4 linked regions of the Homo sapiens genome follow. The protein of the gene in region 2 interacts with the protein of the main gene of each other region in a pairwise test. Each region holds a gene or a part of one and is shown on either strand. Other genes may lie near its edges. The genes, in order: EFHC1, KLF11, RGR and C11orf54.

Region 1 (7,462 bases), on a different chromosome or scaffold from region 2:
AAAGAGTATCTCATCTATACTCTTAAGTTTTTCACTAGTCTTCTCATGTTTTTCATCTGATATCTGGGGCCGTAAAAACTGTAGAACCTAGAAGATACGGTTCTGTGAATTTTATTTTTACATGGAATGAATTTATTTTTACCTGTCCCTCTTGTCACAATGACAGTGATACATTCTTACAACTCTTTGGAAAGCAACTGGATGGTATATATTTAAAGTCTTGAACTCAATAATTCTACCCCGACCATTTATTTACGAATATGATTCAGAATTATGAGAAAGAACTATATGCCTGAAGCTGCCCATTACAATGGTAAATGTTGAAGACAATCTAAAAGACAGTCATATGAAGACATGAGTAAATGATCGAAAACTCACTCAATGGATTATGGTGCTGTCATTAAAATATTGATTTTAGAGATCACGTGGCAACCTGGTGAAAATATTTATGATTTAATAAGCCTGAAAAAGCAACATATAAAATTATATGTGTACTGCAATTATAAGCATGGAAATATGTGCATGAAGAGACTGGTTTGGTCCTCTGTATTATACATTTCTAAATTATGTTGATTTTTTACAATGAACACATTTTTATTTAAAAGATTAAATAAAAAAGAGTAGAAAGGCAAATTAGAGGTTATGTTAATGGTTTCCTTTTTCTGTTGTGAGGATACTTTCACAATTACTTATCTATAATATTCAAATATATACATAGATACAATTTAAGATTAATCATAAAAAATATTTTTATGAAAAAAACTTTCTACATCCTAATTGCTTTAGAGCCCAGCCTACCATCTTTCAAGATCTGTACTAACATGAAAGGTACAACAGAATAAACTTCTTTTGCTAAAAGGGTTATAAACTGTATATAACCCATAAAAACAAATGTATGACATTTGTTTTTAAAGGTCATGTATTCAGAGTCACAAGTCAGTTGACAGGGACTGCTCCAGGTATATAGTAAACATGACATAGAACAAAATGCGCTGAGTTGACATCCTCATTGGGTAATTTATGGAACTTCAAGCTCTTCTTCCACCACCAAAGACAGAAGCAACATCAGTGACTTCAGTTTATTTCTTTGTTTTAGACAAATGTCTCTACCATCATTCAGCCATAACTCACAGACACCCCAGGCAAGGCAACCTCGGCCCTTTCCACCCCTCTTGTCCATTATGGTTCACCTTCTGTGTGTCTTTTTTTAAAATCGTTTTCCCACTCCCCTTTAAAAATTTTTTAACTTCTTATCTGCATGTCTTTAGAATTACATTAATACATATTCAGTCCTTCACTGCTGAAGATATACTGACGATGCTTTTCAAATTTCAAATAGGGCAAATTGGTTGACACTTGGCCAGTGTATTTAAAATCTGAAATATGTCCAATGCACAGTTCTTCTTACTTGTAATACAGCAATATGTTTTTAGAGCTTTGCACTTCCATCCACACCTCTGTAATTCCCTGTATCAACTCAGCCCTGTCTATACTCACCAACACCAAAAGCTTAAGCTCATCCTGTATAGGGCAGGCAAGTGCCTACAACATTTTCTAAATTACATAAAACTGAAAAGTCCACTGAAACTAAAAATCTATGATGTTGTGTCTTAATGCAGGGATAATTACAGAGATTCAGAATACAAATTCTCTCACCAAACTTTCGATTTCATTCTAAATTGATTCTTCCAAAGAAAATAAATTGACAAAATATTTTAACTTTGTGAAGCTGGAGAGGAAGGCAAGAGTTTAAAGTATTAAACTATATAAACATAAACTACTGTTAGCTCATCTATGATGATCAGTCTACTGAATCTCATTATTGATTTTTCAGCACATACATTTCAGTAGCCCTGTCAGAATTAAAACAAACCAAATAATTTTAAGAGCTAAACTGTGGCAAGAGTTTAAAAAAAAAAAAGAATCCAAGCTGCTGCTACTTTTTAAAAAATTTTGTCTAGAAAATGCAAATAAAAACACAAGGTTGGGGAAGGAGCAAAACAAAATCTAAACAGGAATCTTTTTACAAAAACGTTAGAATAAAAAGAACAGGGCCGGGGAAGAATAAACAGCAACTAATCAATTCTTGAGGGAACTGGAAAGGAATATCTCTTACAAAGCAGGGAAAGATGCTTTGGGAGGAAGGTGAGCAAGTTTTGGGGAAAACCCGCAACGGAGAAAGAAAGGAATGGGGAGAGGATGGGACTAAATTGTGGAAAATGTAGAAGATGGAGAAAAAAGAATGGGGTTGGATGCAAGCATAAAGAAGAAAGGAAAAAGACCTGGCGGAAAGAAGAGGAGCGGAATCGATATACATACAAAACAGGAAATGGAGCTGGGAGTGGGAGATACTACCGGGTACAGGATTCAGAAGAGGAAGAGGTGGGGCGGGAATGACGGACCTGTGGGAATGAGGTTGAAGGTGCATAGTGGCGGGGGGTTTTAAGGGCGGCGATGGACGGAGACAGGTTATGATGTGAGAGAACGAGCTAGGGAGAGGGCCCAGAGATAGGTTGGGAGTAGGGTGGGGGAAACAGTGATCTAAAGGGACAAGAGGCAGGGGCTTGGAGGAGCAGGGCCGTAAGAAAGAACGCGGCTAACGGGATGAGAATGAAGGCGCCAACACACTGCCAAGATGGAGTGGGAAAAAACTAGAGAGGGATGAGGCGGAGGGCAAAGGATCGGAGAGAGGGGATGAGGATGGCTAGGGAAGAACGGCAGAAGTTCGGCCCAGAATAAAGAACAGGGTCAGGACAGAAGACGTGTTTGGAGAGAAGACAGACTTGAGTGGAGGGGAATGGAGGTGCACTGAGCGGGGAAACCTCCTGGGCTGCTGGAAGGTGGGGACAGGTGGGAGTCTGGCAGATAACTGCTCACCGTAGAGTCCTTAAAGGACGTGCCCGGAAGAAAGGGCAAGCCATGCACGGGATTGGACACCATTGCAGCCGGTACCACCGCCGCCACCTAGGTCCTGCTTCGTCCTCTCCGGTTGCCCAGGCGACAAGCAGTGTTCGCGGGCACCTCCAGGATCCATGGTAACGCTAAACATCCGGAACTCCCACGAGCGGAAGGCGGGGCCAGGAGGCGCAGGCATCACAGGAGGTTTGCGCGTGCGCCATCCGCAGGACTCCGCGTTCTCGCGGTAAGTGGGCCGCGGCCTTGGAGCGCGGCTAGTGGGCGTGGTTGTGTCGGCCCCTCCTCTTCCGCTTCGCCCCGCCCCGCTCCCGGAGGATGAGACGTGGGAGCTGTTGGGTGGCGCGGGGAAAGGCGGGTGTAGCGAGGCGGTAGTTCTCGCTGTGAGATCCGGGGTCCGAGCAGGCCCTTAGATGAGTTGCAGAGAGGGACGTTCCTTCTCTCCTTCCACCTAGTCCTGGCGGACCTCACTGCGCCCCGCCAACGCTGTGAGCTCAGGCACTCTTTTCTCCCCCCTCTGCCCCATTTCACACAGAAGTGTAAATGGTCGGTCCAGTTGGCAGTGCTACTAAACTAGACCCATGCTTCTTGTAGGCAGGGGCCGAGGATTACCCATGATTGTGTTTCTGTTGCTCAGGGATGGTCAATGAACTAATGCAATCATCTCATCCTTAATTCTCCCACTGCCACATTGTATTTTTCCCCTTTTAACTCTTTTTTAAAATCAATCTTTCTCTTTCTTTCTTTCCTTTCTTTCTTTCCTTTCTTTTCTTTTTCCTTCCTTCCTTCCCTCCTTCCCTCCGTCCCTCCTTCCCTCCTTGCTTCCTTCCTTCCTTCCCTACTTCCCTCCTTCCGTAGAGATAGTGTCCCACTATGTTGCCCAAGCTGGTCTCGAATTCCTGGGGTCAAGCGATCCGCCCACCTCGCCTCCCAAAGTGCTGGGATTACAGGCATGAGCCACCGCGCCCAGCTCTCTTTATTCTACCATCAATCCCTTCGGTTAAACACCTTTGTTTTTGTAGGGAAAGCCTTGAATATGTGCTGCAGGGCAGGGTGCACTCTGATAGGTACTTGATTTTTGTTGACTGAAGAGCTGCAGGTTGAAGGGTGGTCACCTCAATCCCTCGTTTGTACCTGCAGCTGCAATGAAAAAGATCAGAACCACTAGGAGGAACACAGCTCCTTCAAAGAGAAAGACTAAGTCTTGGGAAAGAAGCAGATAAGTGAGGTGAAATATTGTCAGCATCATAGGTATAGCCTTTGATGCTTTTTACAAAACTTGCTTAAATTATTTTTTCTTAAAAGAAACATAATCCTATTCCTGAAACATTTTTTTTGGGGGGGGGGGGAGAAAGCTATCCATCATTGCTGAGGAGCTTAAAAATAAAAAGTAATCAAAACCCACGTGCCGAGAGATTTGGATTCATTAGGTCTGACATGGAGGCCAGGAATCTGATTTTTGTAACAGGCGTTTGTGACAAGCCAGTTTAGGAACATGATAGAGTAATAAGCCAGACACAGAAGGCATATCTCAGTGTCACAGGTAGTTTACTGCCAATACAGACAGCAGCTTTACTTTTATTGCTGCTTGTCAGAGCAAATCCCCCTGTTGGGTTTCACTAATTTGTGTGACGCTCAGGAGGCCCAGGACATGAATGCATTAAGTGGCACCTGAGGCAGTTATTGATGCCTGCTTACCATACCCTGCCCAGAGAGTTTCCTTTCTAACTCTTCTCCCCTTACTACATCTGTTTCCTGTTCTTGTCCTTTTTTAAACCTCTTTTTCTTTTTCTGTAAGTACATTACCTTAATGCAGCAGTTTAATACATTTTTTAAAAACTTCAATGAAGTTTTTTTGCCTTTGGTGCTTTTTACAAAACTTGCTTATTTTTTAAAAAAATAAATGTAATCATATTCCTCAAACATTGGTTAGCATTGTGGAAGTTACTGAAAACTTTTAAAGTACCTGTCCGTTGTATTATACCTTAGACACCAACTGAGGATGGATGCCAGTCACTGGAGGAATATGTCAAGATGGCAAGTTTGCTGGGTGCGGTGGCTCACGCCTGTAATCCCAGCACTTTGGGAGGCCGAGGCGGGTGGATCGCCTGAGGTCAGAGTTTGAGACCAGCCTGGACAACATAGTGAAACCCCACCTCTACTAAAAATACAAAATTAGCTGGGCATGGGGGCGCATGCCTGTAATCCCAGCTACTTGGGAGGCTGAGGCACGAGAATCGCTTGAACCCGGGAGGTAGAGGTTGCAGTGAGCCGAGATCGCGCCATTGCACTCCAGCCTGGGCAACAAGAGCAAAACTCCGTCTCAAAAAAAGGAAAAAAAAAAAAAAAGATGGCAAGTTTAACCTTTCAAAGATAAGGCACCTCTCCCACTTCTCTCCACCTCATTGACGCTGATTACCCAGAATCACTGGTTACTGTAATTTTTGCTGACTCTTCATGATAACCTTAAACTGTTAGAAGTTCCATGATCCCTCCCTACCCACTCTCTTATTAAAAGTAAATTTCATGGCATTAGGACACACTTTGAAGAGCTCTTCTTGACTAAGTGCATGGTTGCACTTGGATCTATATTCCTGGGTTGGGTAGGGAAGGAGCGTGTGGAGCTGGAAAGGCTGAGTCATGCCTAAGCCTATTGTCCATTATCGCATCTGTTTCTATTTGAGGAGTGCCCTCTGCTCATGCCTTTCTTTCCAGAAAAGCACGCCAGTTAAATGGCTAAGGGGTGTGTTTTAACTACTTTCGGACCCCAGAAATGCATGAAGACAACTTCTGTTGGTCTATGGCCTCCTAAAAATGCTATCATCTCTGAGGAGGGGAAGTCAGACGTACTGCATTAGTGTTAAAAGGCACAGGGACAAGTCTGTAAAGAAGTGGGGCGGGAGGAAAGGCAGGGCTTCAGAAAGGTACCTGGATCCTCAGAAGGTCTGCTGTGATTAAGAGTTTGTATCCCAGTCGGGTGCAGTGGCTCATGCCCGTAACCCCAGCACTTTGGGAGGCCAAGGTGGGCAAATCACTTGAGGCCAAGATTTTGAGACCAGCCTGGCGAAACCCCATCTCTACTAAAAATACAAAAATTAGCTGGACGTGGTGGCACATGCCTGTAGTCCCAGCTACTCAGGAGGCTGAGGCAGGAGAATCGCTTGAACCGGGGAGGCAGAGGTTGCAGTGAACAGAGATCATGCCACTGCACTCCAGTCTACATGACCACTTAGCATGCATTGCACTTCAGTTTGTACCCACCATTTCCCACTTAGTGGAATATATAAAAGAGGGCAGGAAACTGACCATTCCTGGCAGCTAAAGTAGGAAATGCCATGATTGAAAGGCCATTGCATAAAGCCTGACTCAGAAGACCACAGAAATATTGCATGATTTTAGCAGGTGTTCCAAAACTTGGGGAATGGAAAAAAATTGAAAGGTCAGACTGCCAGGAGCCAAGCCTGAAAGAGGGCCTTGTGGGCTGGGTAATGTCTTCCAGGCAATCCTGATGGGACAGGCCATAAGCAGTCAGCTAAAATAAACCTCTCCTCTTTCAGCATTTTGCCCAGAGCTGACTTTACCCAGAATTTGTTTTCAAAACTGTGACATTCTCATTCTATAATACCTAAATTCACAGGACAAAAAATACCAAAGGGCTGTGTGTGCATGTGTCCTGGATTACTTCTGCAGTGATTTGGTGTTCTGCTTCCCTCTGCTGGGTAAAAATGGTACAGCAAAATTTCTGGAAAAGAAAACAACCAATTACATACCTGCAGGTTTTGCAGGTACTTGGGGGTGTGGTGAGCACGTGAATATGGCCAGGGGGTGTCCCTCAGTCAGAGTGCTCTCTAGCATTCCTTTCCATCACTCCATGGCCTCTGAAATATTTTATCTAAAAAGAGGGCCCAGTCATCCACTTCGATCTTTGCAAAGTATGGGAAAAGGAGAAACATCCAGTGATTAGATTTAGGATCCACAGGAGATCTTCATTTGACACAAAAATTACATCATTTGGGTCTAGACTATTTTAGTCTTGATGTGGGCTCCTGCCTGGGGTTTGGAAAAACCTGTATTTCTGCTGCTTTTTCCTCCCTTAAGTCAAACCTATTCAATAGCTTTAGCTGATTCCGTTGGAATTCTCTTTCCTTGTCAAAGCTGATGGAACATACTTCACAGGATATAAGCGTCATAAGAAGATGGTCTTCATTTTTTCATTGCCATTTTCCTAACTCTCATCACAGTGCCTAGCACTACATAGATGTCCATTAAATAGTTGGAAAATTACTGACCTACTACAGTTAATGAATGAATGACTCAGCGGTCACGTGGGAAAGTATTTTTCAAACTGCTGCAGATTTCCTTTAGCAGTTCTTCAAATCAACTTAATAGGTTGTGACCACAACGAGAATTATTTTTAAAAAAGAATAGAATAGAAACTATCCAGATGCATTCCATTTTGTTTGTAAGAATAATTCAGTGAAAGTTTTTTCAAGATATATACATACATATACATTCATAGTGAGAGTATATCATGATCACAGTCAAAATG
Region 2 (7,029 bases):
TTGGCACTGCCTGCCTTCACATGCATCTCGCCCCAGCTAAGCTGTGCTCTGGTGGAGTTTCATCCAACCAATACAGACATTTCCTTTTTTTCTGAGAAGTTACTCTACCCACAATATAGTACGGATAAGGCCACAGCAAAAGGAGTCAGAACTGACAATTGACAAAGCAGCTGGATTTGAGTGTTTCTTTTTTGGTGTTTTAGGTACAAACAAGAAACTGAATGGCTTGCTTTCAGCAGAGCCATGGCCAAGACTATTACAGACTAGATCCTGCAGCAAGTACTGGTCCCTGGGATCTGCCCAGTGGCTCATGTTACTCTCTGGGGTACATCCTTCATGACACACCATGGACACAGCTCACTAGTTCCAGTCAACCAAAATTTTAGTTCTTTGGTGACAGGAATGATTGCCTAGAATTTCCTTGAAAACGTTATGAAGAAGCTGACGGCAAAATTTATTTTTCCCTTTTAAGAGGTCCTTACTCAACCAGGTCCGATTCCAAAAAGATCTAAAAGGCCAGATAACTTGTGGTTTTTGTAGTGGAATAACATGTCCAGTTTACTAAAAGAAGGGCCATTAGGAAAAACTTTGTTATTAAACACTGAAAAGAAGGCTGCAAAATGATCTAGCTAGAAATTGGTGATTTGAGCACCAACAATATAAATATTTTTCTAAAAACCAGTATAAAAATTAGTACCCTGTCTTATTTCTACAAAACATCAATAGAAAAGGTTGTAAAAATCCAGATTTTGTAAACTTTATTGCCGAAATATTTGTTTGAATGCTGGTGATTCAGATTATCAAATTTTCTACCATTTCTTTAAAAAAAAAACCAAAACAAAAAAACTTCTGAAACTACAAAAGATACTGAACAGGGTCCCAAGTGGAAAAGAAAAGTTAACATACTTTCATCAAAACCAGCTCCCCGATCTTCCCCTAGGCCGCCAAGACCGTTTTTTTTGGGTGAGGCAGTGGGAGAGGAATCCATCAGTTCCATTCCTGGAAAGAGGCTTTTTAAAAATCCCATGAGTGATGTCCTAATGGACCTTTCAGGCAGAGGCTGGCATGCTCACCAGTGGGCTCCCCGGGCTCTCTGCAGAGGCGATTCTGTTCAGCTTGCCAACCTCTGCCTGCCAGCCTGGGATCTTCTTGGTCGTCATGTGGCGCCGGGCATGCTTCGTCAGGTGGTCACTGCGCATGAAACGTCGGTCACACACCGGGCACACAAACTTCTTCTCCCCTGTGTGAGTTCTGCGGTGGCGTGACAGCTCATCCGAACGAGCAAACTTTTTATCACAGCCATCCCAGCTGCAGTTGAAAGGCTTCTCCCCTGTGAGGTGAGAAAATACATATTAAAGAGAAAGGAAACGCTAAGCACCTTATTCAAGGGGTTAATTCATGTCATTTTAAAATCGTGTTCATCAAACTCAGAAGAAAGTGGTATCTTATTACTCTGGAATTGGATGATTTGGGTCAAGAAATCCTCCAAAAGGCATTTATTCCTCCCACACTTAAGATGCAGCTATGTTAGCACCCAAAGATTTCAAGCTAATCTTTCAAAATATATTTAAAAATAAATCAGGCGAAGTACAAGTACAGCGGCTCAAACCTATAATCGCAGCACTTTGGGAGGCTGGAGACGATCAGTTGAGCACAGGAGTTCCAGACTAGCCTGGGCAACAAAGTAAAACCCAATCTTTACCAAAAAACAAAAATAAATTAATTAAAAATGTAGCATCCAGCCAGGCGCAGTGGCTCACGCCTGTAATCCAAGCACTTTGGGAGGCCGAGGCGGGCGGATCACAAAGTCAGAAGACCGAGACCATCCTGGCTAACACGGTGAAACCCCATCTCTACTAAAAATACAAAAAACTAGCCGGGTGTGGTGGCGGGCACCTGTAGTCCCAGCTACTTGGGAGGCTAAGGCAGGAGAATGGTGTGAACCCGGGAGGCAGAGCTTGCAGTGAGCCGAGATTGCACCACTGCACTCCAGCCTGGGCGACACAGGAGACTCCGTCTCAAAAAATTAAAAATAAAAAATGTAGCATCCAGCTGGGCACGGTGGCTCACGCCTGTAATCCCAGCATTTTGGGAGGCCGAGGCGGGCAGACCACCTGAGGTCAGAAGTTCGAGACCAGCCTGACCAACATGGCGAAACTGTCTCTACTAAAAATACAAAAATTAGCTGGGTGTGGTGGTGGGTGCCTGTAATCTCAACTATTCCGGAGACTGAGGCAGGACAATCGCTTGAACCTGGGAGGCGGAGGGTGCAATGAGCGGAGATCGCGCCATTGCATTCCAGCCTGGGTGAGAGTGAGACTGTCCAAAAAAGAAAAAAAAAGTAGCACCGGCCGGGCATGGTGGCTCACACCTGTAATCCCAGCACTTTGGGAGGCTGAGACAGACGGATCATGAGGTCAGGAGATGGAGACCATCCTGACTAACATGGTGAAACCCCGTATCTACTAAAAATACCAAAAAAATTAGCCAGGCATGGTAGCTGGCACCTGTAATCCCAGCTACTCGGGAGGCTGAGGCAGGAGAGGAGAATGGCGTGAACCCGGGAGGCAGAGCTTGCAGTGAGCCGAGATCGCGCCACTGCACTCCAGCCTGGGCGACAGAGCAAGATTCCATCTCAAAAAAAAAAAAAAAAAAAAAAAAAAAGGTAGCATCTATTCACTCTACCTTACTCCAATTTAAATATTTTTCAGGTTGGCAGAAATATATATAAAAAGCAATCTTATCCAAGGTAAACTTGCCCAGTTTCTACTTCTCATGAAAATTCCAAGTTTACAAAATGGCACAAGGGGATTCTTCAGAACTCTTACAGTTATTTATTTTTATTTTTTGAGACGGAGTCTCACTCTGTCACCAGGCTGGAGTGCAGTGGCGTAATCTCGGCTCACTGCAACCTCCGCCTCCCAGGCTCAAGCGATTCTCCTGCCTCAGCCTCCCAAGTAGCTGGGACTACAGGAGCGTGCCACCAAGCCCAACTATTTTTGTATTTTTAGTAGAGACGGGGTTTCACCATGTTGGCCAGGATGGTCTCAATTTCTTGACCTCGTGATCTGCCTGCCTTGGCCTCGGAAAGTGCTGGGAATACAGGTATGAGCCACAGTGCCTGGCCAATTTTTTTTTTTTTTTTTTTTGAGATAAGAGTCTCGCTCTGTCGCCCAGGTTGGAGTGTAATGGCGCAATCTCCATTCACTGCAACCTCCATCTCCCAGGTTCAAGTGATTCTCCTGCCTCAGCCTCCTGAGCAGCTAGGATTATAGGCATGCGCCAGAAGGCCCAGCTAATTTTTGTATTTTTAGTAGAAACGGGGTTTCACCATGTTGGCCAGGCTGGTCTCAAACTCCTGACCTTGTGATCTGCCCACCTTGGCCTCCCAAAGTGCTGGGATGACAGGCGTGAGCCCCTGTACAAGGCCTGTTATTGAATTGGAAGTACTTTAGGAAACATGGAAGCAACTTGTTTCAATCACTGCAGGTCATTCTGTCAGTACTTCTACCAAGGTAAACCAAATAAACGGTAAAACTTCATTCAGTCACCTCCAACATTTGGAAGCTGTGCTCTGGTGTAATGCAAAGTTCCCCTGGAGAGTCCCGGTGAAATGCAGAGCTCACCAAGTCAACAAGCCCATTAAAAGAGGCAGGCAGGTCAATTCCCCTCAGAAACACCCGTTCCCTGACACAGCCCCACGTCCATCTGCCATGCAAACAACCAACCCTCATTTACTGACTAGTGTCAGGCCCTTTTATCAAGCACCAGGAATATATCCAGGTGAGATATACAACTAACTAAAAAACAAAGGGAGACTATAGTAAGACCTACAATAAACCACTAGGGTCAAAGAAGGAAGATAAAGAAACAATCTAATAACTAATCCTAGGAAGGCCCTCAGAGGGTTTCAGTAAGTAGAGATGGGCAGAGGGCCAAGAGGGAAGGGTGGAAATATGGAACCAGACATAGAATGTTGGGGAGACTGTTTCTGAATGGGCAGAGGTGAGTACCTCATGGGCCAAGTTTGGCTTTATCCTCAAAGCAAGCAGCCACTCAGTAGAATGGAGTAGTAGAGTTCCTCTTATAATGTCTGAACACCAGACTGCACTTTATTCTACACGTGGAGGCTACCACGATCAGAGCAACAGAACACAAACTCACAGAACACCTGAGAAATGGTGCCCTCACCTACTGAAGCGATTGTCTATCCAGCAACACTCAGACCACTGCTGCGCAGCAGGGCAGCCACAGGTCCCATGGAGCTATTTAAACTTCAAATACTAAAAAATGTAAAATTCAGTTCCTCAGGCACACTAGCCACACACTTCAAGTGTGAGCAGCCAGTGGCTACCCTAATGGACAGACAACAAACATTTCCACCATTGCAAAAAATTATATTGGACAGAGCTGGTTAGACAACAGAGAGATCATTAGGTCAGCATAGTTTCTTGTGTGACTTACTTTAAATTAAAAACTACTCTCAGAGGTAAGAAAACTATACTCTTTTAAAAAATATTTTAGAATTTGAACTTTTCTATAGTTTGGCCAGACCTTTTCTCACATAAACATAAGTCACACTGGTAAGATACATTTACTAAATGTGAATGAATGCATGTTTTCTTTAAAAAAAAAAAAAAAAAAAAAAGGATGAAACGTCTACTGCAATGTGAACAGAAGGGGGCACTGTAAGTCACTCTAAAAGCTACCAAAAGACACAATCACAGAACTATACTACATTTTATCTTCCAGGGCGAGCGCTCTGTAGGCAAAATCCTGATGGCTGTGCAAACAATCCCACCCTTACAAGGTTGTGCGGGCTTTTCAGAACCAAAGAAAAAGCCACACTTCCACCTTCGCCAGGGGTTCTCATGATCCCCTCCCAGCCAAAGGCGGCTCAAGGTGTGCTTCCTAACCACAGGGTCTGGTGTGCCCAATGCCCCACCTGCCCCAGCGCTTACCTGTGTGAGTGCGAAGATGGGCCTTAAGGTGGGAACTTTTGAAGTAGGTCTTCCGGCAACCTGGGAAGCTGCATACATAGTTCCTCCTTCGGGAAAAGTCTACCTGAGGGACACAGTTTTGGCTAGAGGTGATGAACACTGGAGCAGGGGCAAGGGGCAACAACTTGGTATTCCCGGCAGCCATGACATTGGCTGCACAGGGGGCAGGCGGAGGGAGGGCTCCCTGGGGCAGGACCAACATCACAGCTCCCTGAGGCACAGCAGGTCCCACGAACACAGGTTGAGGCGCTGGAGCAGCCTGAGCTAGGATGGGTCTCACAGTCCCCACAGACAACTGGGGAGGGGGCTTCAAAAAAGCTGGTAACATGCTACTTTGTCCAGTCACAGGGATCATCTGGCAAAGGACAGGGGGAGCAGGGACAGAGACAGAAATCAGAGGGGTGGTTTTCCTGGGCAGGTCATTTTCATAATTCTTTGGTGAGCAAGTCTGAACTGCACCAGGCCACCCTGCCTGCTGGCCTTTGTCAGTGAGCAGCAGGCCACCAGACTTGTGCAAGCAGGGCTGACAGGACACCAAGTTAGTGCTGAGTAAACTGTCCGTGAGGTGTGTGTCCTGCAAAGTTTCAAAGTGTCCCAGAAGCTGCTCTTCTCCTTCTCTGCTGTCAGAAAGCCGGCAATCTGGAGTCTGGATGGTGGGAAAGCAGGCAGCAGGGCTCTCCCCAGTGTGTCGGATCACGCTAGTCCCCTTGGCCCTGCAGGGAGAGCTGGGCACTGGCTCCAAACCCAGCAAGCCCCTCTCCGCGCCCCCGCTCAGAGCTCTGGCCACTACGGCAGAGGACTGGAGAACATCCGTGGCTGTACATGCTTTGGAATCTGTTACTTGGGGAGAAACAGGTGTCCTTGTCGATGGCTCCACGAGATCAGGGCTCTGAGGAGGAGTTATGCACTAAAAAAAAAAGTACCATGTTAAAAGGTTGCTTTAAATTTTAAAAGGGATTTAATTCATCACAATGCTCCCAATACCTTTACACAGAATCATCTAGACACTCAGTTAACCCTGTTTTCAACATCCCAGTGGGTTTCAAGGCTGCATGAGGCACTCTGCTTTCTCAGCTTATTCCCAACGTGTTTACCTCTCCCAAACCTACACAAGAGCCCAGTGCAGGGAACTCTGAGAGGAGCTCCTGGCCGCCAGGCCCACCACTTCTGCAACCCTCCCGACAACCCACAGGCCCTTCCTATCCCTCTCCAAATCTGCTTTCTACACTCTTCTTTCAGAGCAAGCTTCCAGCCCAGGACAATCACAATTTCCACTTCTGTTAGCAACCTACAGTTCTCAGCTTCTCCAAGCTGAGATGCAATTTTTCCAAGTACTTTCACAGATGTAGCAAATTAAAAAAACAAAAAGCAAGAGTGACTTACTGCACCCAACTCACAGAACTCACATTAAGGAGTCGGCTGCCACGGGAGGGCAGAGGTGCCACCCAACGAAGGCAATCTGATGTCAAAGTACATGCTTTCTCCAGCTGCTACCGATATATTCTGACACTAGGCTGGAGAACCTAAGCTCCACCCCGAGATTCCCCTGGGGAAGTAAATTTCACTTTCTCACATTAATCTGTAGGTTTCATCCCACGGACATTAACCACGTAGCTAGCAAGGTATGATCCATCCATAGAAAGAGCACATTTTTCAGAAATGAAAGAAAAGTTTCTTTTTTTGTTCTTTTATTTTTTTTTGAGATGGGGTCTCGCGCTCTGTTGCCCAGGCTGGAGTGCAGTGGCACGATCTCGGCTCACTGCAACCTCCGCCTCCCGGGTTCAAGCGATTCTCCTACCTCAGACTCCTGAATAGCTGGGACTACAGGCGCCCGCCACCACACCCGGATAAATTTTGTACTTTTAGTAGAGATGAGGTTTCACCATGTTGGTCTGGCTGGTCTCGAACTCCTGACCTTGTGATCTGCCTGCCTGGCCCTCCCAAAGTGCTGGGATTACAGGCTTGAGCCACCATGCCTGGCCAAAGGAAGAGTTTCTACTCCTTCAGACCCACACAGAGAGGATACGCA
Region 3 (5,437 bases), on a different chromosome or scaffold from region 2:
GCTTCTGCTTCTACTCATTCCGCCCTTTAACCTCCAATTCCCTCTGCTATTCTCCTGCCTCAAGAGCAGCAGTAATTTCTCGTTTCCTCTCAGGGACACCAGGGAATATGAACAATGTGACAGACAGCAACCAGGGGTTTTCTGCGTTTTCAGTGATCAAGAGAAAATCCAGCTTGTGCACAGCATAGGATGTTAGAACTGGAAACCACCCTCCCTTTGCTCAGATCGCCAAGGCCTGGGGAGCAAGGATCAGGACTGCTCAGATTCACCCAGACCCCGTAACTCTGGGGACCAGGGCTCCCTACTGGACACATCCGTGCTGTTCCACTTAACTCTTGCCAAGGATGTGAGGTTTGGCACAAAGTTACAGGCTTTTTAAATGCTACTTTTAAACCGCTTTGAGATGTTTAATTTAATCACAGTCACAGGGTGGTGCCCAAAAGATAAAAATCAACCTATAAGCACATTTGTCCAAGAAATACAATACTTCAAAATAAGCCCTCCTGGCCATTTTTTAGTTTCTGAATTACTATTCCCTTGCCACGGTTTTATTTTAACTTGGTCACCTGGATGACCTCTAGCAAAGGAGTCGTAACAAGCAACAAAGATTAGAACAAATTCAGATCTTAATATTATTTCTTTGCAACCACTCTATGAGGAAAGAGGTTTTCTTTCTTTTTTTTTTTTTTTTTTTTTTTTAGGCCGAGTTTCACTCTTGTTGCCCAGGCTGGAGCGCAATGGTGTGATGTCGGCTCACCGCAACCTCCGCCTCTGGGGTTCAAGCGATTCTCCTGCCTCAGCTTCCCGAGTACCTGGGATTATAGGCATGTGCCACCACACCCACCTAATTTTGTATTTTTGGTAGAGACGGGGTTTCTCCATGTTGGCCAGGCTGGTTTCGAACTCCTGATCTCAGGTGATCCGCCCGCCTCCGCCTCCTAAATTGTTGGGATATAGGCGTGAGCTGCCGTGTCCAGCCTTTTTTTTTTTTCTTTGTTTCTTTTTTTTTTCCTTTCTTTTTTTTTTTTTTTTTTTTTTTTTTTTTGAGACAAGGTCTTACTCTGTTGCCCAGGCTGGAGTGCAGTGGCAATCTCGGCTCACTGCAACCTCCGCCTCTCGGGTTCAAGCGATTCTCCTGCCTCAGCGTCCCTAGTAGCTGGGATTATAGGCACCTGCCACCACGCCTGGCTAATTTTTGTATCTTTTGTATCTGTTGGCCAGGCTGGTCTTGAACTCCTGACCTCAGGTGATCCACCCACTTCAGCCTCCCAAAGTGCTGGGATTACAGGTTTGAGCTATCGTGCCGGCCAGAAGGAGGTTTTCTTATCCCTGTGTCGCGGACTAAAAAATTGAGGCTGAGATGGGGGTTAACTAAGCAACTCACCAAAAACCACACACCTGGATTCAAACCTAGGTCTGGGACTCCACCACCCATGTGGTCAATCACAGTGCATGAAAGAAACTCTTTTTTTTAAGTCACTTCATCTGCCACTTTATTTATTTATTGTAAATTGGAAAAGGACTGTGCAAATCTATTTTAGCTGGAGCCCCGATGCTCCCCCGAGGTCAGAAGGAGAGAAAGGGCTTTCCTGGGACCAGAATCCAGTCCCCTGGCTCCCAGCTGGCTGCTGGCATAGGCGCCGCTTCTAGGCTGTCCTCCGCGATGCCGGTCCCAAGCCCTGTCTGGAGGTGCAAAGTTCACATTTACTGGAGGCTCAGGCAGCCGGGAGACAAGGCTGCCACCATGATCTCCTCATTTTTCTGCGTTGACTTTAAACCATTGTCTCTGGTGGGCATCGCCAAGGTCACACGCAGGGGTCCAGGGACCTCATCCCAAGCTGAGCGGCTTCCCGAGACCGCGTAGCCTCCCCAGGGGATTCCACGTCTTAGGGCCTCGGCTCCCGGGAGGGCCCCGAGGTGCTGAGCTCCGTTGTTCGTGGGTTTTTTTTTCCCCAAATAAGGGACAGTTAAGAGGAAAAAAAAAGTCTCTTGGTCAACATATTTTAATAATCCAAGATGGAAGAAAATATGCCCTCTTCCAGCTTAATCACCCTCTTTGTTAAAGAAAGTCAGGTCAGGGAGAAAACAGGCAAGAACTTGAGCGTCAGAATTGCACGTCCGCGTGTTTGTGCGGGGCTGGAACTTGGCAGCTCCCGCTGAAATTAAAGCGCGAGTCTTGCGCCCCCTCATGGCCCCAGGCGGCACCCCAGCATCTCCCGCTCTCTGGACAAGCCCCTCCCCCGCTGATTGTATTTCACATTGGGAGCCCAGACAGGGTGGTCTCGCCGGGTGGCTGTAGCTGTGGATGACGAGTTGGTTCTAGGACTGAGGCCTGAGGGCAGCTCAGCCTGGGGCCCCTTGAGCACGCAGTCACAGAGCCCAGGATTCCTCTTAAAGAGCACAGACGCAGGCCAGGCACAGTGGCTCATGCTTGTAATCCCAGCACGTTGGGAGGCCGAGGCAGGAGAATCCCTTGAACCCAGGAGTTCGAGACCAGCCTAGGAAACATAGTGAGACCCCTTCTGTATTTGACAAACAAAGAGTACAGACCCAGGAGGAAGCGCTCATTATCCACCCAGTCTCGGCCTCCAGCCACGTTGGGTATTGTCAGGCCATTTTACAGACACAGCAGCTGAGGTCAGGCAAGTTTAAATAAAAGGCTTAAGGTCACACAGTCTTAAACAACAGAGAGGCCCATCTGGTCCCAAGTTCCCCTGCAGACTCAGCCCCCTCCTGAAGCCTGGTCCATGCTGCCCCGCCCTGCTGAGTGCTGACCTGGTTTTCTTGGCCACATAGGGCTGTGGGCCACCTGGAGCAAGCTGACATCTCCTGTGACAATTTCTCCCCAGGTAAACACCACTCTGCCAGCAAGGACGCTGCTGCTCGGCTGGGGCCCCTATGCCATCCTGTATCTATACGCAGTCATCGCAGACGTGACTTCCATCTCCCCCAAACTGCAGATGGTACAGATACTTCTAGTACCTAAAACTAGACCCCTCTCCATCTTTGTTCTCTGTCTCATCTCATCTCACTTTCTGGATTTATGACCTCTGTGTCAGTCTCTTCCTTTCTGTGTTTCTTCCTTTGGATACTCACAAGGCATAGAGCATTAGTTTGCCCCCCTAATCCCCCACCTCGTCTCTGAGTCATACCAGGCTGCTGCTTGACATTGCCCAAACCTCATGTGAGATGACAGGGACAGCCAGCCAGATGGTGTAGATAAAGACTCTGTGACCAGGGGTTGAGATTAGTCCCCAGGCTGGGAGCAGGTGGGTCTGGACAAGAGTATGGCTCCATGGACTCCGTGAGCCATGCATCTCCACCAACTAGTCAGGGAAGCCTCCAAGGCTGCAGAACTAAATGATTGGCAGTTGTAGGTGGAGGGTGACCGGGGTCACCAGGTGAGACCAGAGAGAGGATCAGTGGCTTTGAAGCTTCTTTTCTGGACTTTTCTGCCACAACAGGTGCCCGCCCTCATTGCCAAAATGGTGCCCACGATCAATGCCATCAACTATGCCCTGGGCAATGAGATGGTCTGCAGGGGAATCTGGCAGTGCCTCTCACCGCAGAAGAGGGAGAAGGACCGAACCAAGTGAGCCTGCCACCCTGGAGTGAGCCCCAGGCCAGGAGGCTGTTCCAGGAGTCCTGCCCAGCAGCCTCAGTGGCCAAGCCCAGACACTCACCCACCTTCCCCAGTGGCCCCGTGGATCCTGGTCCTAGGCTGGACACAGGATTCAGAAAGACACCAGGCTGCACAGAAAGAGCCAGATGGACCTGAGTGTCGGTCACAGCCCCCTACACTCAAGGCTGAGAGGCCTCAGGAAAGTCATTCCTTTTTAAAAATAATAATAAATGTAAGGGGGTACAGTGCAGTTTTGTTACATGGATAGATTGCCTAGTGGTGAAGTCTGGGCTTTTAGTGTAACCATCACCCTAATAATATACGTTGTACCCATTAAGTTATTTCTCATCCCTCACCCCCTCCCACCTTGTCACCCTTCTGAGTCTCCAATGTCTATTATTCCACACTCCATGTCCACGTGTACACATTATTTAGCTCCCACTTACAAGTGAGAACATGTGGTATTTGACTTTCTGTTTTTGAGTTATTTCACTTAAAATAATGACCTCCAGTTTCATCCATGTTGCTGCAAAAGACATGATCTCGTTCTTTTTTATGGCAGTGTAGTATTCCATTCCATATACATATATAAACGTTATATATATGTAACGTTTTCTTTATCCAATCATCTGTTGATGGATAGATTCCATATCTTTGCTACTGTAAACAGCTGTGATAAGCATACAAGTGCAGGTTTCTTTTTGATATACTGATTTCTTTTCCTTTGGGTAGATACCAGTAGTAGGACTGCTGGATCAAATGGTAGCTCTATTTTTAAGACAGTATGGAGAAATCACCATACTGTTTTCCATAGGGGTTGTACTAATTTACAGTCCCACCAACAGTGTATAGGTGTTCCCTTTTCTCTGCATCCTTACCAATATCTGTAATTTTTTGACTTTTTAATAATAGCCATTCTCACTTGTGTGAGATAAGGTCTCATTGTGGTTTTAATTTCCATTTCTCTGATGACTTTTGATGTTAAGCATTTTTTCATATGCTTCTTAGCCACGTGTATGTATTCTTTTTGAAAAAATGTTTATTCATGTCTTTTGCCCACTTTTTAATGGCATTATTTGGATTTTTTTTGTTGAGTTATTTGAGTTTCTTATATATTCTGGATAATAGTCTGGATAATATATTCTGGATAATATATAATAGTCTTATATATTCTGGATATATTCTGGATACATGGTTTGCAAATATTTTCTCCGGTTCTGCACGTTGTTCATTCTGTTGATGGTTTATTTTGCTGTGCAGAAACTTTTTTAGTTTAATTAAGTCCCATTTGTCTATTTTTGGTTTTGTTGCTTGTGCTTTTGAGGTTTCTGTCATGAATTCTTTGCCTAGACCAATGCCCAGAAGAGTTTTTCCTAGATTTTCTTCCAAGATTTTTATAGTGTCCATTCTTACACTTAAGTCTTTAATCCATCTTGAGTTGATTTTTTTTTTTTTAAGACGGAGTCCTGCTCTGTCACCCAGGCTGAAGTACAGTAGCACCATCATAGCTCACTGCAACCTTTGCCTCCCAGGTTCAAGCAGTTCTCATGCCTCAGCCTCCTAAGTAGCTGGGATTACAGGCATGCGCTACTATGTCTGGCTAATTTTTTGGGGTTTAGTAGAGACAGGGTTTCACCATGTTGAACAGGCTGTCCTCAAATTCCTGACCTCAGGTGATCCACCCACCTTGGCCCCCAAAGTGCTGGGATTACAGGCATGAGCCACCGTGTCTATCCTTGAGTTGATTTTTATATATGGTAAGAGATATGGGTCCAGTTTCATTCTTCTGCATATGGCAATTTAATTTTCCCAGCA
Region 4 (7,029 bases), on a different chromosome or scaffold from region 2:
AATCCAGAAGGGGCCGGGACGGCAGGGGGCTGGTGTGTCAGCAGTGCCCTGAGCGTGTGCACACCTGGCTGGGCTGCGACAGCGACCGGGCTCTGCCTGACTTTGCTCCTGGATCGGAGCAGGCGCCGACAGCAGGGAGAAGCCAGGCAGTGGGAGCAGGCATTTCCAAGCCTGTAAGAGCAGTGGGGGCCTTCCCAGACCCCCAAGAATGCAGGAATGCCTGGGTCCGCAGCCACGGTTTGGGCAGCTGCAGCTGTGTGGAGAAGGCAGGGCTCCTGCCTGCTCCGTGGAGCGGGAGACCCAGGTCTGCAGCCGCGGGTTTGAGCTGCTGCAGCTGCGCCTGGGCAGTTGGGGCTCTCGCCTGTTCCCACTGGGAGAGCACAGGGATGCCAGGGACTACAGCCATGGCTTGGGCGATTGCAGCGGCACCAACGGAGCTCCAGCGCCAACTCGGAAGGGGCAGGACTCCCACCTGTCTTCAGCTCCCACCCGCTCCATAGAGTGTGTAGCCTCAGCCGTGCCTCCCTGCTGCAGCCGCTCCAGAGAGCCTGCCGCTGCCATCATCACTATGTTGACCAGGCTGGTTTTGAATTCCTGGCCTCCAGCGGTCCTCCCACCTGGGCCTCCCAAAGTGCTGGGATTACAGGCATGAGTCACTCTGCAGGCCTTGAATTTATCTTGATCTTAAAAACAAACATATCCAAAATAAAGTTCTAATATACTAACATGGACAAAGATATTATCTTACAATCTGATTTATAAAATTATCATTTAAATTTTAAAGTAATACAATCATAATAAAAAGGATTTGTTTAAAGTGTCTTCAAATGTAGAATTCCCAACACATACTTTACAATCCTAAGATCTGGCCCGGTGCAGCGTCTCACGTCTGTAATCTCAGCACTTTGGGAGGCCGAGACAGGTGGATCAGCTGAGGTCAGGAGTTCGACACCAGTCTGGCCAATGTGGCAAAACCTTGTCTCTACTAAAACTACAAAATGAGCCGGTTGTGATGCTGCATGCCTATAATCCCAGCTACTCAGTAGGCTGAGGCAGGAGAACCCCTTGAATCCGGGAGATGGAGGTTGCAGTGAGCCAAGATTGTGCCACTACACTCCAGCATGGGCAACAGAGCAAGGATCCGTTTAAAAAAAAAAAAAAATCCTAAGATCTTAAGTAAGTGCACACACACAAACTCCTTCATGCATGTATGCACACATGGGCTCTTACCATAATGTGAGACTTCACTTTTCCCTTCTGAATTATGAAAGTACCTCCCATTCCTATAGGCTTATTTCCATAATGTTTTTCCAGGGTCTCTCTCATACAAGTCACAAAGTTAAGTGGTCCAGTTCTTCTTTTGGCTTTCACCTCAATTACCTATAGAGGACATAAAGATGCATACCATTGACTATGCTGCAAAATAACTACTGAAATAAAACATTATATAATTTAATTCTATCAAGCAAATATTCTGTTCTTTGCTTAGAGCCCCCAGATCTGAGTTGAGATGTTGCAATCCCGTGAATTTTGATCAGTCATATATATATGTATGCACACACACACACACATACTTATCAGTTACATGTAATTTACTAGTAAGTCTTAAGCATGCTTTCTTGAACTGAGAAACTGAGAAAGACAAGTTTCTCAGTGCAGAGAGTCTAGAGACTCTTAACATACGTGTCGAGGCAGTCAAAGATTGAGAATTACCTTTGGTAATTCTTTGGTTAAAGGAATTAACCTTTGGTAAGTGGGGATGAGGAGAAAATGATTACATTTTCTCACTTCCCTTAAAATTCTGTATTATCTCCACAACTTGGACGTTAAGTATTTTCACTTCTCAATCTCTTATCTCAAAGTAGCTGAAGAGGCTATCTCTACTTCCAAAACTGGAGAGTCTTCACAAAAGCTAACACTGAAATCATATTTTTGTGTACTAATAGGAAGTAAATATCAAGTAAGGCATTAGTTTTCCTTACTTTGTTCTTGCTGTAAGTTTTTGCTACCACCATTTCTATCTAGAGCAATGTGTGATTCATCAGAAAGAAGCAAATAACCTATTTACTACCTGTAAGTAGGCATTATTTATTTTAGCTGTATGGTTCATGTAGATGACAAACTCACTCCCCAAATTAATATTCTATTACCTTTTAGTTCTCAGAAAAAGGTCTTGCTTACTAAGTAGTCTTTTTTTTTTTTTTTTAAGACAGGTCTTGCTGTCACCTAGGTAGGAGTGCAGTGGTGTGATCATAGCTCGTTGCGGCCTCAAACACCTGGGCACAAGGGATCCTCCTGCATCAGCCTCCTGAGTAGCTAGGACTATAGGCATGTACCACCACACCTGGCTAATTAAAAAAAAAAATTTTTTTTTTTTTTTTTTGACAGGGTCTTGCCATGTTGCCCAGGCTGGTCTGAAACTGCCAGCCTTAAGTGATCCTCCAGCTTTGGCCTCTCAAAGGACTGGAATTATAGGCATAAGCCATTGTGCCAGCCATACTATTCTTTTTTTTTTTTTTTTTTTTTTTGGAGACAGAGTCTTGCTTTGTTGCCCAGGCTGGAGTGCAATGGTGCAATCTTGGCTCACTGCAACCTCTGTCTCCCAGGTTCAAGCAATTCTCCTGCCTCAGCCTCCCAAGTAGCTGGGACTACAGGCATGTGCCACCTTCCCTGTCTAATTTTTGTATTTTTAGTAGAGACGAGGTTTCGCTATGTTGGCCAGACTGGTCTCAAATGCTTGACCTCAGGTGATCTACCCACCTTGGCCTCCCAAAATGCTTGGGAATACAGGCGTGAGCCACCGCGTCTGGCCTCCAGCCATATTATTCTTAACCTTAAAGATGACTTTTGCTCTGCCTGTCATACTCTCTGAACCTTTCATTACTGGGTTATTTAAAGAGCTTTGACTTAGGAAGCTCTAATTTTCTTTTTTTTTTTTTTTTTGAGACAGAGTCTCACTCAGTGGCCCAGACTGGAGGGTAGTAGCATGATCTTGGCTCACTGCAACCTCTGCCTTCCGAGTCTGAGCGATTCTCTCACCTCAGCCCCCCCGAGTAGCTGGGATTACAGGCACACACCACCACACCCTGCTAATTTTTGTATTTTTTGGTACAGATGGGGTTTCACCATGTTGACCAGGCTGGTCTTGAACTCCTGACCTCAAGTTGACCTCAAGTTATCCACCCAGCTTGGCCTCCCAAAGTGGGAAACTAATTTTCTTAGCAAAACCATATTTATGGCAGTAAAAGTTCACATTTTTAGCTTTCTGAGAACATTTAGGGAATATTGTATTTTTATGGACACAATCACCTTGCCAGGTTGGCCTTCACTGGCAAAAAGATTAGCCAGTAATGCACACTGAAAATCATGACATTTCTCACTGTATTTCTCCAGTAGGCACCCTCCATCTGCAGGGTTCACATGGGCAAAGTAACTTCCATTTACAGGAGGCTTGTGTTCACTTTCTGTCTGAATAACTGGCATAAACTGAAAAGAAAGTGAGGCAATTAGTCAATCTTTGTATCTCTGCAAAGAGAATATCTTGAATAATGTTACAAAACATTTAATCCTTTTAAGACATTTTAGTTCAAGTCCTAATAAGAGAACATAAAATACATAATATTTAATTTTAGACATAAAAAACTTGGAAAACATTTATAGGCCGGGCGCTGTGGCTCATGCCTGTAATCCCAGCACTTTGGGAGGCCAAGGGGGGCGGATCACGAGGTCAAGAGAAGAGATCAAGACCATCCTGGCCAACATGGTGAAAACCTGTCTCTACTAAAAATACAAAAATTAGCTGGGCGTGGTGGCACACACCTGTAGTCCCAGCTACTCAAGAGGCTGAGGCAAGAGAATTGCTTGAACCTGGGAGGTGGAGGTTGCAGTGAGCCAAGATCGCGCCACTGCACTCCAGCATGGCGACAGAGCGAGACTCCATCTCAAAAAAAAAAAAAAAAAAAAAAAAGATATTTATTGGATTTCTTACAGTGTATCTATAACTTGCGTTAAATATCTTATTTTAAATTTTTAACTTTTTTTCCTAACTTGAACACTAGGCAAATTGTACTAATGTTTCTGCAAAGAACTTGTATGACTACTATTCATATCTGAAGAGGTTATGAGAGAATGAGCAGACTGAAGTCTTGTATTCATGAGATTCAAAGAAACAGTAATATTTTCATATGGTAATAATATATACTAGTAATAACTATTAACTTTCATAAATAACCATCATACTATTGTGATAGTTTCCTACTATTTGGTGTGGAAGAAGGAGTTGACTAGATCACTAATATTCCATTCATCTTCTAATCCAAAGCTGCCTGCATACCCAAAGCAAAGATTTATAGATAAGCTCGGAATCCTGTAAGAATATAAATATTTTATAATCCAGAACCTTCAACAGAATACCATAGAACCCTGCATTTATCTAAGGCTGAAGCTATGACCTAAGAAAATCTAAAACTACAAGTTAGTACTCCATTACAGTTAGTCCAGTTGGAGTGTGTGCTATAGCAGAAATCTACATCAAGTAGTATCAAACCTGCAGAGAGATTTACAATTCACTCAGAAAGTAGGATTTTTGGCACTAAAAGCAAAAAGACAAACCAAATGTCAAACCAATAAAGTAAAATAATTTTCTTATATATGCTGACCTCAGAATTGAACCCGAGAGTCTGAAATGGACCTGCTCCTGCTCCAAGAATAAAGGCTCCAGGCAGCTTGATTTCTTTTGCAATTTTATTCAGATCATAAACCTATAGAAGAGGAAAAAATATTATTTAAGTCACAACTTGTACAAAGTCCCTGGTTTACCTTTTATTACTGATCCATTAGCACTTCCTTGCCAACTGATCAACAGGTCTTCTAATAATAAACACAGTAATCAACCCAACTTCTACAATCTTCATGTGAATATGCAGAGTAAAAGTACTTACTTTTTTTTGGTTTACAAGAGGCAATAAGTAAGGCACACCTCCAACTTCTGCAATTCTAGTTTTCCCACAGATGCCTAAGAAAAAACCAAAAAACAAAAACACAAGCCACCTTAAAAACAGGCAAACATCTAATTTAATAATAAAATGCCAACAGTATATAACTTCTCCATTATCATAAAGTTTTACAAATAACAGGGATTGGAAGACATAGTGGCTAGAACCCCTGTCCTATTTTAAGTACCTGTGTCTCTAATAATCATCATAACCAAGCATGGCTTATAAAGTTGGTGGCATAAAGGCAATACAAGGCAAGGGCAAGGGTTAGAACTGGGGCCAAAGTTTGGATTGGGTAAGGTTTCTAGAATGTCTTTGACGCCTTATTTCTTTAAAAAAAATCTATTTTGGGGTGGTTTTCCTTTTTTTGGCTAAAATTGTTTCTTGTTTTTTAATTTAAAATATTTTGCTCTGGTACAATGTAAATTCTCAGATGGTGGCTCACGCCTGCAATCCCAGCACTTTGGGAGGCTGAGGCGGGTGGATCACCTGAAGTCAGGAGTTCGAGACCAGCCTGGCCAACATGGTGAATCTCTACTAAAAATAGAAAAATTAGCTGGGCATGGTGGCGGGAGCCTATAATCCCAGCTACCAAGGAGGCTGGGGCAGGAGGATTGCTTGAACCCGGCGGGGGCAGAGGTTGCAGTGAGCCAAGATTGTGCTACTGTATTCCAGCCTGGGCAACAGAGCAAGACTCTGTCTCAAAAAACAAAACATCACGAGGTCAGGAGATCGCGACCATCCTGGCTAACACGGTGAAACCCCATCTTTACCAAAAATACAAAAAATTAGCCGGGCGTACTACTCAGGAGGCTGGGTGTACTACTCAGGAGGCTGAGGCAGGAGAATGGTGTGAACCTGGGAGGCAGAGCTGGCAGTGAGCCGAGATCGCGCCACTGCACTCCAGCCTGGGTGACAGAGCGAGACTCCGTCTCAAAAAAAAAAAAAAAAAAAACCCAGAGAGATCTAGGTGAGATGTACAAATTTCAAAGTTATATTCAGGTAGTAATTAAAACCATAAGAGTGGATTTAAAAAATACCCAGATAGATTACTAGAAATAAGAAGAGGCTAAGGAAAGAATTCTGGAAAAGATCAATATTTAAGAGACTATTAGAAAGAAAAAGGAACCAGGAAAATATGGAAGAAAAGAGGAAGGAAAGGCACAAAGGAAGAACAGGTGAAACAAGGATAGAGAAGATAGAACCTAGGGGAGAATGTCAGGCAGCAATGGCCAAGCAGTATGAAATACGTGGAGAGGTTAAATAGTACTAGTAAACATTTTAAGGTCACTGGTGATCTTAGCAAGACCAGTTCATGTAGAAAATGTCTAACACACCACTGCATCCAGCTAATTTTTGTACTTTTAGTAGAGATTGGGTTTCACCATGTTGGCCAGTTTGGTCTTAAACTCCTATGTTTATGAAAGATCATACATACACATATTAGATGCATATCTGGCTTCTAGTATTGCAATTTAAAGACTCACAAATTACTGACCAGAAAACACTTCTTCCAAGCATAACTCTGCATGACAAAATTAAGACTAACCATTTTGGCTGGGCATGATGGCTCACACCTGTAATCCCAGCACTTTGGGAGGCCGAGGCGGGCACATCACTTGAGACTGGGAGTTCGAGATCAGCCTGGCCAACATGATGAAACCCCGTCTCTACTAAAAATACAAAAATTAGCCAGGTGTCGTGGTGCACACCTGTAATCCTAGCTACTTGGGAGGGTGAGGTATGAGAATCGCCTGAACCCGGGAGGCAGAGATTGCAGTGAGCCAAGATTGTGCCACTGTACTCCACACTCCAGTCTGGGCGACAGAGCGAGATTCCATCTCACACACACACACACAAAAAAAAAAAAAAAAAAAAAAAGATTAACCATTTTTCCTTCTTTCTTGTACTCTTCTGTCTCCTGACCTTTATTTAATTTTAGTTAATTACTTAATTAGCAGGGGAAATACATTACACTCATATTTTTAAAAAAATCAAGGCTGGGCGTGGTGGCTCACGCCTGTAATCTCAGCAC

What was found.
Region 1: the proteins of KLF11 (region 2) and EFHC1 interact in binary tests that used the Homo sapiens proteins (3 or more experiments, as listed by UniProt).
Region 3: the proteins of KLF11 (region 2) and RGR interact in binary tests that used the Homo sapiens proteins (3 or more experiments, as listed by UniProt).
Region 4: the proteins of KLF11 (region 2) and C11orf54 interact in binary tests that used the Homo sapiens proteins (3 or more experiments, as listed by UniProt).

What each region holds. Positions count from the first base shown.
Region 1 is NC_000006.12:52,415,889-52,423,350, reverse strand, and holds the start of EFHC1 (EF-hand domain-containing protein 1), read right to left. Parts: upstream 3,010-7,462; 5' UTR 2,941-3,009; coding exon 2,878-2,940; exon of another isoform or gene 2,370-2,877; intron 2,344-2,369; exon of another isoform or gene 2,283-2,343; intron 1-2,282. UniProt on the Homo sapiens protein: Microtubule inner protein (MIP) part of the dynein-decorated doublet microtubules (DMTs) in cilia axoneme, which is required for motile cilia beating.
Region 2 is NC_000002.12:10,046,528-10,053,556, reverse strand, and holds part of KLF11 (Krueppel-like factor 11), read right to left. Parts: intron 5,908-7,029; coding exon 4,962-5,907; intron 1,331-4,961; coding exon 1,050-1,330; 3' UTR 1-1,049. UniProt on the Homo sapiens protein: Transcription factor. Activates the epsilon- and gamma-globin gene promoters and, to a much lower degree, the beta-globin gene and represses promoters containing SP1-like binding inhibiting cell growth.
Region 3 is NC_000010.11:84,255,044-84,260,480, forward strand, and holds the end of RGR (RPE-retinal G protein-coupled receptor), read left to right. Parts: intron 1-2,849; coding exon 2,850-2,963; intron 2,964-3,464; coding exon 3,465-3,596; 3' UTR 3,597-4,917; downstream 4,918-5,437. UniProt on the Homo sapiens protein: Receptor for all-trans- and 11-cis-retinal. Binds preferentially to the former and may catalyze the isomerization of the chromophore by a retinochrome-like mechanism.
Region 4 is NC_000011.10:93,751,667-93,758,695, reverse strand, and holds part of C11orf54 (ester hydrolase C11orf54), read right to left. Parts: intron 5,015-7,029; coding exon 4,941-5,014; exon of another isoform or gene 4,937-4,940; intron 4,761-4,936; coding exon 4,659-4,760; intron 3,487-4,658; coding exon 3,310-3,486; intron 1,381-3,309; coding exon 1,231-1,380; intron 1-1,230. UniProt on the Homo sapiens protein: Exhibits ester hydrolase activity on the substrate p-nitrophenyl acetate, in vitro. Regulates DNA damage and repair by regulating HIF1A degradation via chaperone-mediated autophagy (CMA).